Homo sapiens: one gene and its partners. The gene in region 1 interacts genetically with each later gene. Each region holds a gene or a part of one and is shown in the gene's direction. Other genes may lie near its edges.

Region 1 (3,500 bases):
TGTCAGGGAATATGCAGTCTGTGGGCCCTGGCAGAGAATAGCAGGAACACTGCAGATCGGCACTGCTTACAGCACAGCAGAGCCACAAACCTGGCATCTGGGCAACCACAGATCAGGTGGACAGACACTGACCTTGGAGCCAGATCTGAAATTTAGAATGTGAGTAAGTCAATGACTTACCTTCCAGACCTTAGTTTTCTCATCCATCAGGTGAAACTAATGATATACCTTCTCCATCTCAGATGAAGGGACGTATATTACACCTTACAGTCTTTGTATGCAGTAAACTTCTTTTGTGAATAGGAGGTCTTTTATATTGGGGTAGAGGTCTCAGGGAAAGTACAGGGCCAGGAACTGAAGGAGATTACCTGGCTTTTTTTTTTAATAAAAGGGTCTTGTTCTGTCACTGAGGCTGGAGTGCAGTGGTGCCATCATAGCTCACTGTAACCTCAAGCTCCTGGGCTTGAGCAATCCTTCTGCCTCAGCCCCTCAAGTAGCTGGGACTACAAGTGCATGCTACCACACCTAGTTAATTTTAATTGTTTCGTAGAGATCAGGTCTTGCTATGTTACCCAGGCTGATCTCAAACTCCTGGGCTCAAACATTCCTCCTACTTCAGCCCCCCAAAGTGCTAGGGTTACAGGCATGAGCTGCTATGCCTGCCTGGCCTGACTGGGCTTTTTCTTTCTTTCTTTCTTAGTTTCTTTTTTTTTAAAAGAATTGTAGATATGTAGTAAGCCACCTTATGGAAATTGTAATATGATGGAAATTAGAGAACAAATTGGCCAAGCTTTTCATTGACTTACAAGGAGAAAATTGGAGAAGAACTTTCACTGTTTTATTGCTTGTCTTTGCATTATCTTTTTGAGCTTGTGTGTGTGTGTGTGTGTGTGTGTGTGTGTGTGTATTTGGCTTAGGATTTAGAAAAAGCAGCAGTCTTAGAAACCTTGTATGACCAGAGTGTGGGATAAGATTGAAGCAAGAAGTAATTAAATGTGCTTTAATTATTTAAGGCAGAAAATAGTGCAGTGGTCACTTCTGGGTTCTGCTTTTTGAACTCAGTTAGTACCCTGGGATCACAGAGGAATGGCACTGTCTTGTGCTTGTTCCCCTTATTAAGCTCAGCATGTGGCCCAATTAATGCAGTGATCCAGAAGGCAAGGGAGGTAGTGGTGGCTTTGTGCTGTTGCCTTAAGGACACGGGGCTGTGTTTCCCGCCTGGCTCCCTCCTGTCCTAGGCCTGGCTCAGGAGTTGTCTCCACATGAGGCTGTGCAAGTCTGTGCTGTGGCTGTTGCAGCTCCCCCCTGTGAAATACAATGTGTGAACTATTGATGCATCACGTAGAATGATTCCATCTTCTCTGTGGGTCAGAGGCAAGAGTGGAGCTATTGTTGATGAAATCAGAGATGTGAGAGGGGTCCATGTGGATTAGAAATGGTGAGATGGCTTGCCTGCCCAGATGAGAAAGCTGCTTATTTCTGGGGCTCTATCTGAGGGAGGAGGTCCTGCATTGCATCCCATCGGCCATGGGGCAGAGCCACCTGGGGTTTCCCAACAAAAAGCAACATTGGCAAGGTAGCCATTTCAGTGCACCGTGTATAAGAATGCCTCCTTCTGCCAGGCGCGGCGGCTCATGCCTGTAATCCCAGCACTTTGGGAGGCCAAGGTGGGTGGATCATAAGGTCAGGAGTTCAAGACCAGCCTGGCCAATATGGTGAAACCTGATCTCTACTAAAAATACAAAAATTAGCCAGGCATGGTGGCGGGTGCCTATAGTCCCAGCTACTCGGGAGGCTGAGGCAGGAGAATTGATTGAACCTGGGAGGCGGAGGTTGCAGTGAGCCGAGATCGCGCCACTGCACTCCAGCCTGGGTGACAGAGCAAAACTCTGTCCCCTCCACCAAAAAAAAAGAATGCCTTTTTCTATCCGGGTCAAGACTCAACAGGTTTTTATTGTTTGTTCATTTGTTCATTCACCACTAGACTGTTTTTCAAGTGGCACAGCTTTCAACTCTGCAACTGGTTTAGAAGGACGGGGTGGGGGGCAATAAGAATGACCCTGGCTACCTAAAGGAAAGGGAAGGAAAAAGGTCCCAAAAGGGGAGACTGGAGATGGGGCATCTTTGGGCCCTTGTGGCACCCTAGGTCTCGAGCCCTGTGATTCAATGACTGTTTTTCTTCACCCCTCGCAGATGGAGCGGCAGCGCCTCGCTCGAGAGAAGCAGATGAGGGAGGAGGCTGAACGCACGAGGGATGAGTTGGAGAGGAGGCTGCTGCAGATGAAAGAAGAAGCAACAATGGCCAACGAAGCACTGGTGATTTCTGAGGGGCTGGGGTTCCAGGAGGCTACTTGGGGACTTCCTTGGCTTTTCTGGAGCTTGGTCTCCTGAAAACCATGAGTTAGCAGCGTTTGCTTTGAAATACTTAATTTCAGCTTTGAAAAAATCAGTGCCTTTTCTTTTCACCTGTGTTGGCAGAAGCAGATTTAGGTTGAGCTTATGTGCAGCCAAACTCCACTTTCACCACGAGGTTGCCTTTATAGCAGGGCTTCTCAGCCTGGGCACTACTGACATTTGGGGCTGACCATCCTTTGCTGTAGGAACTAGATCCCAGTAGCAGCACCTCACCCTCCATTTGTAACAATCCAAAACATCTTCAGACATTGCCACATGTCTCTTTTTTTTTTTTTTTTTTTTGAGACGGAGTCTCGCTCTGTTGCCTAGGCTGGAGTGTACAGTGGCACGATCTCAGCTTACTGCAATCTTCACCTCCCAGGTTCAAGCAATTCTCCTGCCTCAGCCTCCTGAGCAGCTGGGATTACAGGCATGCATCACCATGCCCAGCTAATTTTTGTATTTTTAGTAGAGATGGGGTTTCCCCATGTTGGTCAGGCTGGTTTCGAACTCCTGACCTCGTGATCTGCCCGCCTCAGCCTCCCAAAGTGCTGGGATTATAGGTGTTAGCCACCGTGCCCAGCTGTACTTTTATTTTTTTTTTTTGAGATGGAGTTTCACTCTTGTTGCCCAAGCTGGAGTGCAATGGCATGATCTTGGCTCACTGCAACCTCCGCCTCCTGGGTTCAAGCGATTCTCCTGCCTCAGCCTCCCAAGTAGCTGGGATTACAGGTGCGCGCCAACACATCCAGCTTTTTTTTTTTTGTATTTTTAGTAGAAATGGGTTTTCACCATGTTAGCCAGGCTGGTCTTGAACTCCTGACCTCAGGTGATCTGCCCGCCTCAGCCTCCCAAAAGGCTGGGATTATAGGCGTGAGCCACCGTGCCCCACCTGCCACATGTCTCTTGCAGGGGACAAAAAACTCCTCTGGTTCTAACCACTGATTTAAAGGGAAAGAACAGAGTTTAAGTTGTTTTTCTCCACGTGAAGCATAAGCCTGAGCTGAGGTGGGTACTCAGAGAAGGTGCTCTTGTTACTCCCCATGGGTGCAGCCCGAAGGGCCCTTCTGAAAAGTTGGGGAATGTGGCTTGTCATTTCTTGTCAG
Region 2 (3,500 bases), on another chromosome or scaffold:
ACGATGTCCCTAACAGCGAATTCCAGGGTGCCCGTGTAGCAGGAGAGAAGCAGGTCGGCCACGATGCGTGCACTGTGCATCAGGGAGACCTGCAGCTCCGAGCTGGGGTTAAGCAGGAACTGGTCCCGCAGGAACGGTGAGCAGGCGGCTAAGATGACCTTGTGGCCTCGAAACTTGAGGCTGTCGGCCACAATGGTCACGTCGCAGAACCACTCCTCTGCCCGGAGCTTGTTCATGTTCCGTAGCGTAGCGGCCTAGTGGCCGGGCAGCTGGAAGCGCAGGACTTCACCCCAGAGGCCATTGTGGCGGGGGTGGGCAACCCTGGCCCGGTTCCGCGCGCTGTTTTTTTTTAATCCCCTATTTTCCCCACCCCCGCGGGGCCGGAAGCGCCCCCCACACACGGGCAGAGCCAGGGCAGCATGTAGGCGCAGGGCGGGAGGGTGTATAGGGCGCGCTCGCGCTGGCGGGGCCGGCTCCACGTGGGCGTAAAGGGGTAGGGGCGGGAGCGGCTCGTGCGGTGTGTTCCAGGCCTCGCGCGCGCGGCGACGGCGTCGGCTAGGACTCAAACCCTGGAGTTTCTGATTCAGTAGCTCTGGGATAGAGAAAACTTCCCAAGGGATGCTGATGCTGCTGGTTGGATGAACAACACTGAGATCATTGCTTTAAGACATCCATTGTTGGTTGTTGGCAATAACTTAACTTTTTGGCTAGGGGTGGAGGTGTAGGAGACAGTCTGGCTGTCTCCCTCAGGCTGGAGTGCGGTGGCGCCATCTGGACTCACTATAACCTTCGCCTCCCAGGTTCGAGCGATTCCTGCCTCAGCCCCTCAAGTAACTGGGATTACAAGCATGTGCCACCACATCTGGCTAATTTTTGTATTTTTGGCAGACAGTGTTTCGCCATGTTGCCCAGGCTGGTCTCAAACTCCTGGCCTCAAGTGATCTGCCTGCCTCGGCCTTCCTAAATGCTGGGATTACAGGCGTCAGCCACTGCACCCAGCCTAAATTAACTTTTATCGTAGGCATCTAGGGAAGTACTATTTATGTACCAAACTTGGGAAAATTGAGAAAACAGTCACTAATTTTTTCTATTTTGTGGTTCAAATCAGGAACCCAGTTGAAAAAGGCTGGTTTAGAGTAATTGGCTAGTTGTCGTGGCTCACACCTATAATCCCATCACTTTCGGGGGCTGAGGTGGGAGGACTGCTTGAGCTCAGGAGTTCAAGACCAGCCTGGGTAACATGGTGAAACCCTGTCTCTACCAAAAAAAAAAAAAAAAAATTGTTTTTAATTAGCTGGGCGTGGTGGTGTGCACCTGTAGTCCCAGCTACTCAGGAGGCTGAGGTATGAGAATCACCTGAGCCAAAGAGGTCAAGGCTACAGTGAGCCTTGATTGTACCACTGCACTTTAGCCTAGGCAGCGTGAGACCCTATCTCAAAAAAAGAAAAAAAGAAGAATGATCTAATTTACATGGTAAAAATGGGCATTCTCTTTACATGTAACATTTTTAATATGTCCACATATTTATACATACCTCTATTAATTGATAAAGCAACTTTTTTTTTTTTTTGAGATGGAGTCTCGCTCTGTCGCCCAGGCTAGAGTGCAATGGCATGATTTTGGCTCACGGCAACCTCCGCCTCCCGAGCTCAAGCGATTCTCCTTCCTCAGCCACCTGAGCAGCTGGGATTACAGGCACATGCCACCACGCCCAGCTAATTTTTGCATTTTTTGTAGAGATGAGGTTTCACCATGTTGGCCAGGCTGGTCTTGAACTCCTGACCTCAGATGATTGCCCGCCCTGGCCTCCCAAAGTGTTGGGATTACAGGTGTGAGCCACCGCGCCCAGCCAGTGAGACAACTTTTTTTAACAGAAATGCCAAGAATTATTGCTAGACAGGTAGATACTATTTTTTAGACAAATATTAGCTTTATAAAGATATTTTCCTTATAAATACATTTAGAATCATAAATTAAGTGATGTAGTTTAATCCAAAAAACTTGTCCTGTTTCAGAATGTTATGGAATGATTTCATATTTTCTTGAAAATATGGCCGGGCGCGGTGGCTCAAGCCTGTAATCCCAGCATTTTGGGAGGCCAAGGCGGGCGGATCACAAGGTCAGGAGATCAAGACCATCCTGTGTCTCACGGTGAAACCCTGTTCTACTAAAACTACAAAAAATTAGCCGGGCATGGTGGCATGTGCCTGTAGTCCCAGCTACTTGTGAGGCTGAGGCAGGAGAATTGCTTGAACCAGGGAGGTGGAGGTTCCGGTGAGCCGAGATCGCGCCACTGCACTCCAGCCTCGGCGGCAGAGTGAGACTCCATCTCAAGAAAATAAAAGAAAAGAAAAAAGAAAATATATTTGTTTCATAGTATCTTGTTTTTAGAGTGCCATTGAAAGAAAGCCTCACATGCTATTAGTACTAATGATTTATCACTTTAACTTTGTTTAGAGAAATGGATAGAAAAATAAGTGAGTGGATAAAACTAACAAGAAGGTGGCTGGGCGCGGTGGCTCACGCCTGTAATCCCAGCACTTTGGGAGGCCGAGGCGGGCGGATCACGAGGTCAGGAGATCGAGACCATCCTGGCTAACACAGTGAAACCCCGTCTCTACTAAAAATACAAAAAATTAGCCGGGCGTGGTGGCGGGCGCCTGTTGTCCCAGCTACTCGGGAGGCTGAGGCAGGAGAATAGCGTGAACCCGGGAGGCGGAGCTTGCAGGGAGCCGAGATCGCGCCACTGCACTCCAGCCTGGGCGACAGAGTGAGACTCCGCCTCAAAACTAAACTAAACTAAACTAACAAGAAGGATCTTGGCAACAAGAAAAACAAGGACAGTTCAGAATTCGAGTTGTCTTAAGAAATAGAAAAGCTGGCCGAGTGTAGTAGCTCACACCTGTAACCCTAACCTTTGGGAGGCCAAGGTGGATGGATCACCTGAGCTCAGAAGTTCGATACCAGCCTAGGCAACATGGCAAAACCCCGTCTTTACGAAAAAAGGAAAAACAAAAAAAATGCTGGGTGTGGTGGTGTGTGCCTGTAGTCCCAGCTACTCGTGAGGCTGAGGCAGGAGAATCGCTTGAGCCCAGGAGGCGGAGGTTGCAGTGAGACAAGATAGTGCCACTGCCCACTCCAGCCTGAGCGGCAGAGCAAGACACTGTCATTAAAAAAAAGAAAAAAGGCCGGGCGCAGGTGGTTTTTCATGCCTGTAATCCCAGCACATTGGGAGGCCAAGGCGGGCGGATTACGAGGTCAGGAGATCGAGACCATCCTGGCTAACACTGTGAAACCCCGTCTCTACTAAAAAAAAAAATACAAAAAATTAGCTGGGCGTTAAGGCGGGCCCCTGTAGTCTCAGCTACTCTGAAGGCTGAGGCAGGAGAATGGCGTGAACCCGGGAGGCGGAGCTTGCAGTGAACCGAGACTATACCACTGCACTCCAGCCTGGGCGACAGAGCCAGACTCCGTCTCAGGGGAAAAAAAGAAAAAAGAAA
Region 3 (3,500 bases), on another chromosome or scaffold:
CAGAGGGCTGAGTAGGTACCTCAGGCCGGGGCCAGAGTGCTGTGAAGACAGGCAGCAGCCCAGACCAAGCTTCTCTGTGTTCCGTGTCCTGGTCTAGAACCAGCGATGTTCTTTCTGACCAGTGCTTTTTGGAAGGTGGCTGAGGTCTGGGCTCAGGTCTGGGCCATACTAGAAGCTGGGATCCCTTCTATAGAGCACTTGGTATGGCTTGTATGGTCTTGGGGCAAGCCAGACCCAAGCCCTCTTATCCCATTTTAGAAAGGGCTTCAATTTGGATCCAGCCCCAGGTCTGCCTTAGCTCTGTATTCTTGGGGTATTTTGTTCTGTATTGGCCTATCTTGACTAACAATGAACCTTGGATTTGAAACATATCATCAGAAACCTCAGAAGACAACATTCTTAAACTGGCTAGAGCCTGGTCTGAATGGATGAAAAGGAGAGACTTTTGAAGCAATATGTAAAAGATTGAGAAATGATTTGTTGGAAATTTCTCAATTGGAGAAATTTCTTTGATTTGTTGGAAATTTCTTTGATTCTTTCTCAATCAAAGAAAATCGGGACAAACTCAACAATAGAAAGGGAGGAAGCAAGATACTCAGAAATAAAATGCATTCCCCTGTTTCAACTTAATGCTTCAATTCAGGATTCTAAGGAATCCTTGCCAGGAATGTCAGACTCACCTTGATAGTTGGAGTTACTCCATTGGTGACTCGATCAAATACAGGAGTTGAGGCACCTGCACTGTAAAATACTGATTAGTCTGATCATTAGGAATATCCTGTATGCCAGGTAGAAGATACATTGAACAGATTGCATGTAGGCATTAAATTCATTTTGGGGTATTACATATAGACAACACATTTCATTAAGAAACATAAAACTGTCAGATCGGTGGAATACTTAAAAGCACTTGGAGGTGTTTAGCCTAAAAAGCTTAGTTGAGGGGAATGGAAGAAAAGATCTGGGAGGGTGGTTCCAAAGAAGGGATCAGACTGTCCTAAAGCCCTCAGGAATCTGGGCTGGGACCAGCCTACTTAAAGATAGGATGGGCAGCTGGGTGTGGTGGCTCACGCCTGTAATCCCAGCACTTCGGGAGGCCGAAGTGGGCGGATCACCTGAGGTCAGGAGTTCGAGGCCAGCCTGACCAACATGGAGAAACACTGTCTCTACTAAAAATACAAAATTAGCTGGGTGTAGTGGCGCATGCCTGTAATCCCAGCTACTCGGGAGGCTGAGGCAGGGGAATCGCTTGAACCTGGGAGGTGGAGGGTGCCGTGAGCCACGATCGCGCCATTGCACTCCAGCCTGGGCAACAAGAGCGAAACTCTCAAAAAACAAAAAAAAGGATGGGTTCCATATGGGTGGTGTCAAGTGCCCACCTCCTAGCAAGTCAGCAGGGGCCAGAGGCCCTTGTAAGTGGTGTCTCGGGGGGATCAACTGAGATGGCTTAGGATTTACCTGGATGCCTGCTCTGCTCTCCCCATCTCTTCCAGGGATCCACAAATGCTAAAGAGCTGTCTTCCAAGGGAGTGAAAATCTGGGATGCCAATGGATCCCGAGACTTTTTGGACAGCCTGGGATTCTCCACCAGAGAAGAAGGGGACTTGGGCCCAGTTTATGGCTTCCAGTGGAGGCATTTTGGGGCAGAATACAGAGATATGGAATCAGGTGAGGAGATAGAACAATGCCTTCCATTTCCCGGGTGCCCTTCCTAGCATGTGTTTGCTCCGTTGTTTTAGATAAGGTCTGGGGGATGAGTCAATGTCACAGGAGCTGATGTATAGCTTTGACCTTGTGAGGGGTGGTGCCAGGTTAAGCCACAATTAAGCCTCATGAAGGCCGTTTCACACTCTTTTTTTTTTTTTTTTTTAATTATTATACTTTAAGTTTTAGGGTACATGTGCACAATGTGCAGGTTAGTTACATATGTATACATGTGCCATGCTGGTGCGCTGCACCCACTAACTCATGATCTAGCATCAGGTATATCTCCCAATGCTATCCCTCCCCCCTCCTCCCACCCCACAACAGTCCCCAGAGTGTGATGTTCCCCTTCCTGTGTCCATATGTTCTCGTTGTTCAATTCCCACCTATGAGTGAGAATATGCAGTGTTTGGTTTTTTGTTCTTGCGATAGTTTACTGAGAATGATGATTTCCAATTTCATCCACGTCCCTACAAAGGACATGAACTCATCATTTTTTATGGCTGCATAGTATTCCATGGTGTATATGTGCCACATTTTCTTAATCCAGTCTATCATTGTTGGACATTTGGGTTGGTTCCAAGTCTTTGCTATTGTGAATAGTGCCACAATAAACATACGTGTGCATGTGTCTTTATAGCAGCATGATTTAATAGTCCTTTGGGTATATACCCAGTAATGGGAGGGCTGGGTCAAATGGTATTTCTAGTTCTAGATCCCTGAGGAATCGCCACACTGACTTCCACAATGGTTGAACTAGTTTACAGTCCCACCAACAGTATAAAAGTGTTCCTATTTCTCCACATCCTCTCCAGCACCTGTTGTTTCCTGACTTTTTAATGATTGCCATTCTAACTGGTGTGAGATGGTGTCTCATTGTGGTTTTGATTTGCATTTCTCTGATGGCCAGTGATGGTGAGCATTTTTTCATGTGTTTTTTGGCTGCATAAATGTCTTCTTTTGAGAAGTGTCTGTTCATGTCCTTCGCCCACTTTTTGATGGGGTTGTTTGTTTTTTTCTTATAAATTTGTTTGAGTTCATTGTAGATTCTGGATATTAGCTCTTTGTCAGATGAGTAGGTTGCAAAAATTTTCTCCCATTTTGTGGGTTGCCTGTTCACTCTGATGGTAGTTTCTTTTGCTGTGCAGAAGCTCTTTAGTTTAATTAGATCCCATTTGTCAATTTTGTCTTTTGTTGCCATTGCTTTTGGTGTTTTAGACATGAAGTCCTTGCCCATGCCTATGTCCTGAATGGTAATGCCTAGGTTTTCTTCTAGGGTTTTTATGGTTTTAGGTCTAACGTTTAAGTCTTTAATCCATCTTGAATTGATTTTTGTATAAGGTGTAAGGAAGGGATCCAGTTTCAGCTTTTTACATATGGCTAGCCAGTTTTCCCAGCACCATTTATTAAATAGGGAATCCTTTCCCCATTGCTTGTTTTTCTCAGGTTTGTCAAAGATCAGATAGTTGTAGATATGCGGTGTTATTTCTGAGGGCTCTGTTCTGTTCCATTGATCTATATGTCTGTTTTGGTACCAGTACCATACTGTTTTGGTTACTGTAGCCTTGTAGTATAGTTTGAAGTCAGGTAGTGTGATGTCTCCAGCTTTGTTCTTTTGGCTTAGGATTGACTTGGCGATGTGGGCTCTTTTTTGGTTCCATATGAACTTTAAAGTAGTTTTTTCCAATTCTGTGAAGAAAGTCATTGGTAGCTTGATGGGGATGGCATTGAATCTATAAATTACCTTGGGCAGTATGGCCATTTTCACGATATTGATTCTTCCTACCCATGAGCAT
Region 4 (3,959 bases), on another chromosome or scaffold:
AGTGGATGTCTCAGGATTCCAAGGCAAGCCCATCTGACTTCAAAGACCAAGTTCCTAACCACTTTGTTACGCTGCATCTCACTAAATATTCTAGATACTATTTTTTCCAGGTCTTCGGAGACCTTACTTCTCTGACTTTCACATTCTAACGTTCTGAGGCTAATACTGCGATCTCAGTATTTGCCCTCCACCCCCAACGACCCACACTCGAGCTCTAGAGCTGCCGTACTTAGCAAATAAAAATACGAGATTTCCAGATAAATTTGAACTTCTGGTAAGCAACGACAGACTAAAAAACTATTCATTGTTTACCTGAAATTCAAATTTAACTGGGTATCCTGCATTTTATCTGGCAACTCTATCAAGTTGAGACTTTATTGGGGTTATAAGCCTCAAGTACTATTTCCGGGTAGTAAATAAAGCCGAATGGAGGCACTGATGTTGAGATGCTGCAGCCAAGGCCTCCTTAAGTGAGGTTGCCACTACTCGTCTCCAAAAAGGCTACTGACTCGGGTGCGAGTAACAGAGATCGAGACTCAGTTCCCAGGGCCACTCCATATAACACAGTCATCAAAAAGCCAACAGATCACAGGGCCTTTGGAGCAGAACAACACAAATCGGGAGCACAGCCAAGAGAGAAAGGGGGAAGAAAGAATAGGGAGGGGGTCTAAGGAATCCCCTGCAGTGTGGGAGCCACTTTATAGGTAAATCGAAGCCCAAGGACACACCAAAGAAGAGGGGACTGGAGAACCGCTAGCCAGGCCCAACCTCTCTCCCACCCTCCGTCTTCCTCCGGGTCCGTCTGGTGGGCCCATTTCGACCAACACCTCTACCCATTTTCTCTTCCCCGGTGTCAGCGCCGCTCCTGACATCCAACCTCCATGTTCCCCCTTTTATTCTCCACTACCTTTGACCCGCGCGCTCTTGGTCTCGAATTTGGTTAACATCTCTCAGGTCTCCGACTCCGATGTCTTAATCCGAGCCCCGACACACCCTGCTGCCCTTCGGACGCCTCCACGTCAGCGACCCTCTCCCGCGGTTTCCGGAAGCGCCTGGAAACACGAACTTCCGGTCTCTTAGGCTCCGGGCCACAGAGACGGTGTCAGTGGTAGCCTAGAGAGGCCGCTAACAGACAGGAGCCGAACGGGGGCTTCCGCTCAGCAGAGAGGCAAGATGGCTACGGCAGGGGGTGGCTCTGGGGCTGACCCGGGAAGTCGGGGTCTCCTTCGCCTTCTGTCTTTCTGCGTCCTACTAGCAGGTGAGGCCTCCCCGCCCGTGAGCTCCGTTCTCTAAGGGGAACTCTCGGATCGGCCCCGCCGCGACCGCCACTGTCTCCCTTCTGGTTCCTGCTGCCCCTCTGTCCCCCCACCCTGTAAATCCTCTTTCTTTTTCGTTCCCACGACAGAAGTTCCCCCTTTGCCTGGACCTGAAGGTCCCTTCTCCCCCGCAGCACGTCGTGTCGCTTCACTCCCTTCTCTAGGCCTCTTCCTGGACTTCGAGCCTGACCCTCTCCCACTTTGTCCAGATGTCTCGTTTTTCCCACAACCCCAGCCACCCACCCCACAGTCGAAAGGAACAGGTGTGAAAGTTAGCTTTCTTCCTCGCGTTTAGACTTTTTGAGACGAAAGCAATCTTGTTCTGTGGGTGCTGTGCGGCGCTTAAAAGGTGGATTTCTTATTTCTTCCTCTGTTGATTACATCCTAAGTCTGTGTCCCCCTGCCTTGCCTCAGGTTTTTTTTTTTTTTTTTTTTTTAATCAGTAAAGCAAGAATAAGGTAGGATATGGGTACTCTTAACTGTGAAGACCCTGAAGTAACAATTCAAGGAACTTTTGGCATTTATAATGTACTTAAGTGTTTGCTGATACGCGTTCATTTACTGATACATGGCTTTTTAGTTGGTCAAGCCCTAAAATGCAAATGCCTGTATATAACTATGACTGTGCCTTCCCCCAATTCACATTGTTTTTAAGGATCCTCAAAGGAGAAACTACAGCTGCCCCACACTGTGGGCACACAAATGACCTGCTGATGTTAAATTAACTGACCCGTGTATGTCATAAGGTTTCTCTCAATTCTGTTCACACTCTTGGAAAAATGCCTCAGAAAGTTTTCTTAGCCCAGCACCTGTGTATTAACCAATTAGTAATATACATACAGGATATACAAGCAGAAGTGTGATCACCTGTGCAACCAGAATCTGGCAAATCTAAGGTCAAACACCTTTCCTTTGACCAAGTTTTCTCTCTTTTAGTGTCACTGTCAATGGCGCTACATGGACTTTGTAATAACCCTTTGAGGCACATAGCTGGGTGCCATGTAGAACATGTATCTGTTACGATAAGTGTGTGCCCAAGAAATCAGAAGAATGGACTTTAATCTCATTTTAGAAAGTATGATATTAAATGATTTACCCAAGCCATACTTCAGGTTAATGACACGATAGAAGCTAGTACCTGTGTCTCTCAAATTTTTCTAACACTTTTTATCTTCCGATCAGGTTTGTGCAGGGGAAACTCAGTGGAGAGGAAGATATATATCCCCTTAAATAAAACAGCTCCCTGTGTTCGCCTGCTCAACGCCACTCATCAGATTGGCTGCCAGTGTGAGTTGAGATGGATTCATGTTTGTGGACATTGATATTTGTCTGTGCCCTAGATACTAAGTAACATCCATGTCCTGCTTAGGAGATTTGACACTTATATTGGACTGTATGTAGGCAGTTACAGATAACCGTCTGTCAAGCTAGGCAAGATAATTAATAAGAACTAACATTTAGTAAATGCTGCATACCAAGCTTTTTACATGTGCATCTCATACAACCCCAACCACAACCCCACAAAATAGGTCTTACTGTTATTGTCACTTTATAAATGATGAAACTAAAACTTAAAGAAGTTGAGTAACTTTCCCAAGATCATACTGGTAATAAGTGATGATGCCAGGATCTGGTGGCCCGAGCACTAAGCTGAGAGACCTTTTTTTTTTGACACGGAGTTTCACTCTTGTCCCCCAGGCTGGAGTGCAATGGCACGATCTCGGCTCACGGTGACCTCTGCCTTCTAGGTTCAAGTGATTCTCCTGCCTCAGCCTCTTGAGTAGCTGGGATTACATGCACCTGCCACCATGCCCAGCTAATTTTTGTATTTTTAGTAGAGATGGTGTTTCACCATGTTGGCCAGGCTGGTCTCGAACTCTTGACCTCAAGTGATCCACCCACCTTGGCCTCCCAAAATGCTGGGATTACAGGCGTGAGCCACCGCACCCAGCCGAGCCAGCACTCTTAACCACCCTATTATACTGTTTTTTAAGGAGAAAAAAGTCTCATATTCTATGGTGTCCAGTTATCACTTGCACTCTGAACTTTTTGGAACCAAAATGGGCTAAAGGCAATGAACTATCTGAAGAGAAGGCACTGAAAATGCCAAATAGGCTGGGCGCAGTGGCACATGCCTGTAATCCCAGCACTTCAGGAGGTCAAGGCGGGTGGATCACTTGAGGTCAGGAGTTTGAGACCAATCTGCCAGCATGGTGAAACCCCCCCATCTCTACTAAAAATACAAAAATTAGCCGGCTGGCTGCTATGGCATGCCTGTAGTCCTAGCTTCTCGGGAGGCGGAAGCAGAAGAATCCCTTGAGCCCAGGAGGCGGAGGTTGCAGTGAGCTGAGATTGTGCCACCATACTCCAGTATAGGTGACAGAGTGAGACACTGTCTGAAAAAAAAAAAAAAAAAAAAAAAGAAAATGCTGAATAATTGCAAGAGGAATTAGTGAAGCATTCTATTTATCCTTTTTTAAAACTTTTTTTCCTTAAATTCAACTGACAGGCCGTTTATTTTCACACTTTGTGTGTTCCAAAAGAAGGTTCCATGACACTGTGGCTTTAAAAACTATCAAAATCATAGGGCAGGAAAAGTAGTAATCTAAAGGCTAACCTGCTGTCTTCAGATTTTGTTTCCCA

Evidence for each region.
Region 2: changes in NF2 (region 1) and UBE2K together harm fitness more than expected from each alone (negative genetic interaction), as found in Homo sapiens cells (one large-scale study listed by BioGRID).
Region 3: changes in NF2 (region 1) and TYMS together harm fitness more than expected from each alone (negative genetic interaction), as found in Homo sapiens cells (one large-scale study listed by BioGRID).
Region 4: changes in NF2 (region 1) and NCSTN together harm fitness more than expected from each alone (negative genetic interaction), as found in Homo sapiens cells (one large-scale study listed by BioGRID).

Annotation. Positions count from the first base shown.
Region 1 is NC_000022.11:29,669,633-29,673,132, forward strand, and holds part of NF2 (merlin), read left to right. Parts: intron 1-2,193; coding exon 2,194-2,316; intron 2,317-3,500. UniProt on the Homo sapiens protein: Probable regulator of the Hippo/SWH (Sav/Wts/Hpo) signaling pathway, a signaling pathway that plays a pivotal role in tumor suppression by restricting proliferation and promoting apoptosis.
Region 2 is NC_000004.12:39,771,136-39,774,635, forward strand, and holds part of UBE2K (ubiquitin-conjugating enzyme E2 K), read left to right. Parts: exon of another isoform or gene 1-564; intron 565-3,500. UniProt on the Homo sapiens protein: Accepts ubiquitin from the E1 complex and catalyzes its covalent attachment to other proteins. In vitro, in the presence or in the absence of BRCA1-BARD1 E3 ubiquitin-protein ligase complex, catalyzes the synthesis of 'Lys-48'-linked polyubiquitin chains.
Region 3 is NC_000018.10:660,653-664,152, forward strand, and holds part of TYMS (thymidylate synthase), read left to right. Parts: intron 1-1,493; coding exon 1,494-1,668; intron 1,669-2,333; exon of another isoform or gene 2,334-2,353; coding exon of another isoform or gene 2,354-3,500. Other genes in the region: ENOSF1 (mitochondrial enolase superfamily member 1), read right to left, coding at 2,354-3,500. UniProt on the Homo sapiens protein: Catalyzes the reductive methylation of 2'-deoxyuridine 5'-monophosphate (dUMP) to thymidine 5'-monophosphate (dTMP), using the cosubstrate, 5,10- methylenetetrahydrofolate (CH2H4folate) as a 1-carbon donor and reductant and contributes to the de novo mitochondrial thymidylate biosynthesis pathway.
Region 4 is NC_000001.11:160,342,224-160,346,182, forward strand, and holds the start of NCSTN (nicastrin isoform 1 precursor), read left to right. Parts: upstream 1-1,159; 5' UTR 1,160-1,173; coding exon 1,174-1,258; intron 1,259-2,252; exon of another isoform or gene 2,253-2,366; coding exon of another isoform or gene 2,367-2,391; intron 2,392-2,498; coding exon 2,499-2,603; intron 2,604-3,959. Other genes in the region: COPA (coatomer subunit alpha), read right to left, coding at 908-947. UniProt on the Homo sapiens protein: Essential subunit of the gamma-secretase complex, an endoprotease complex that catalyzes the intramembrane cleavage of integral membrane proteins such as Notch receptors and APP (amyloid-beta precursor protein).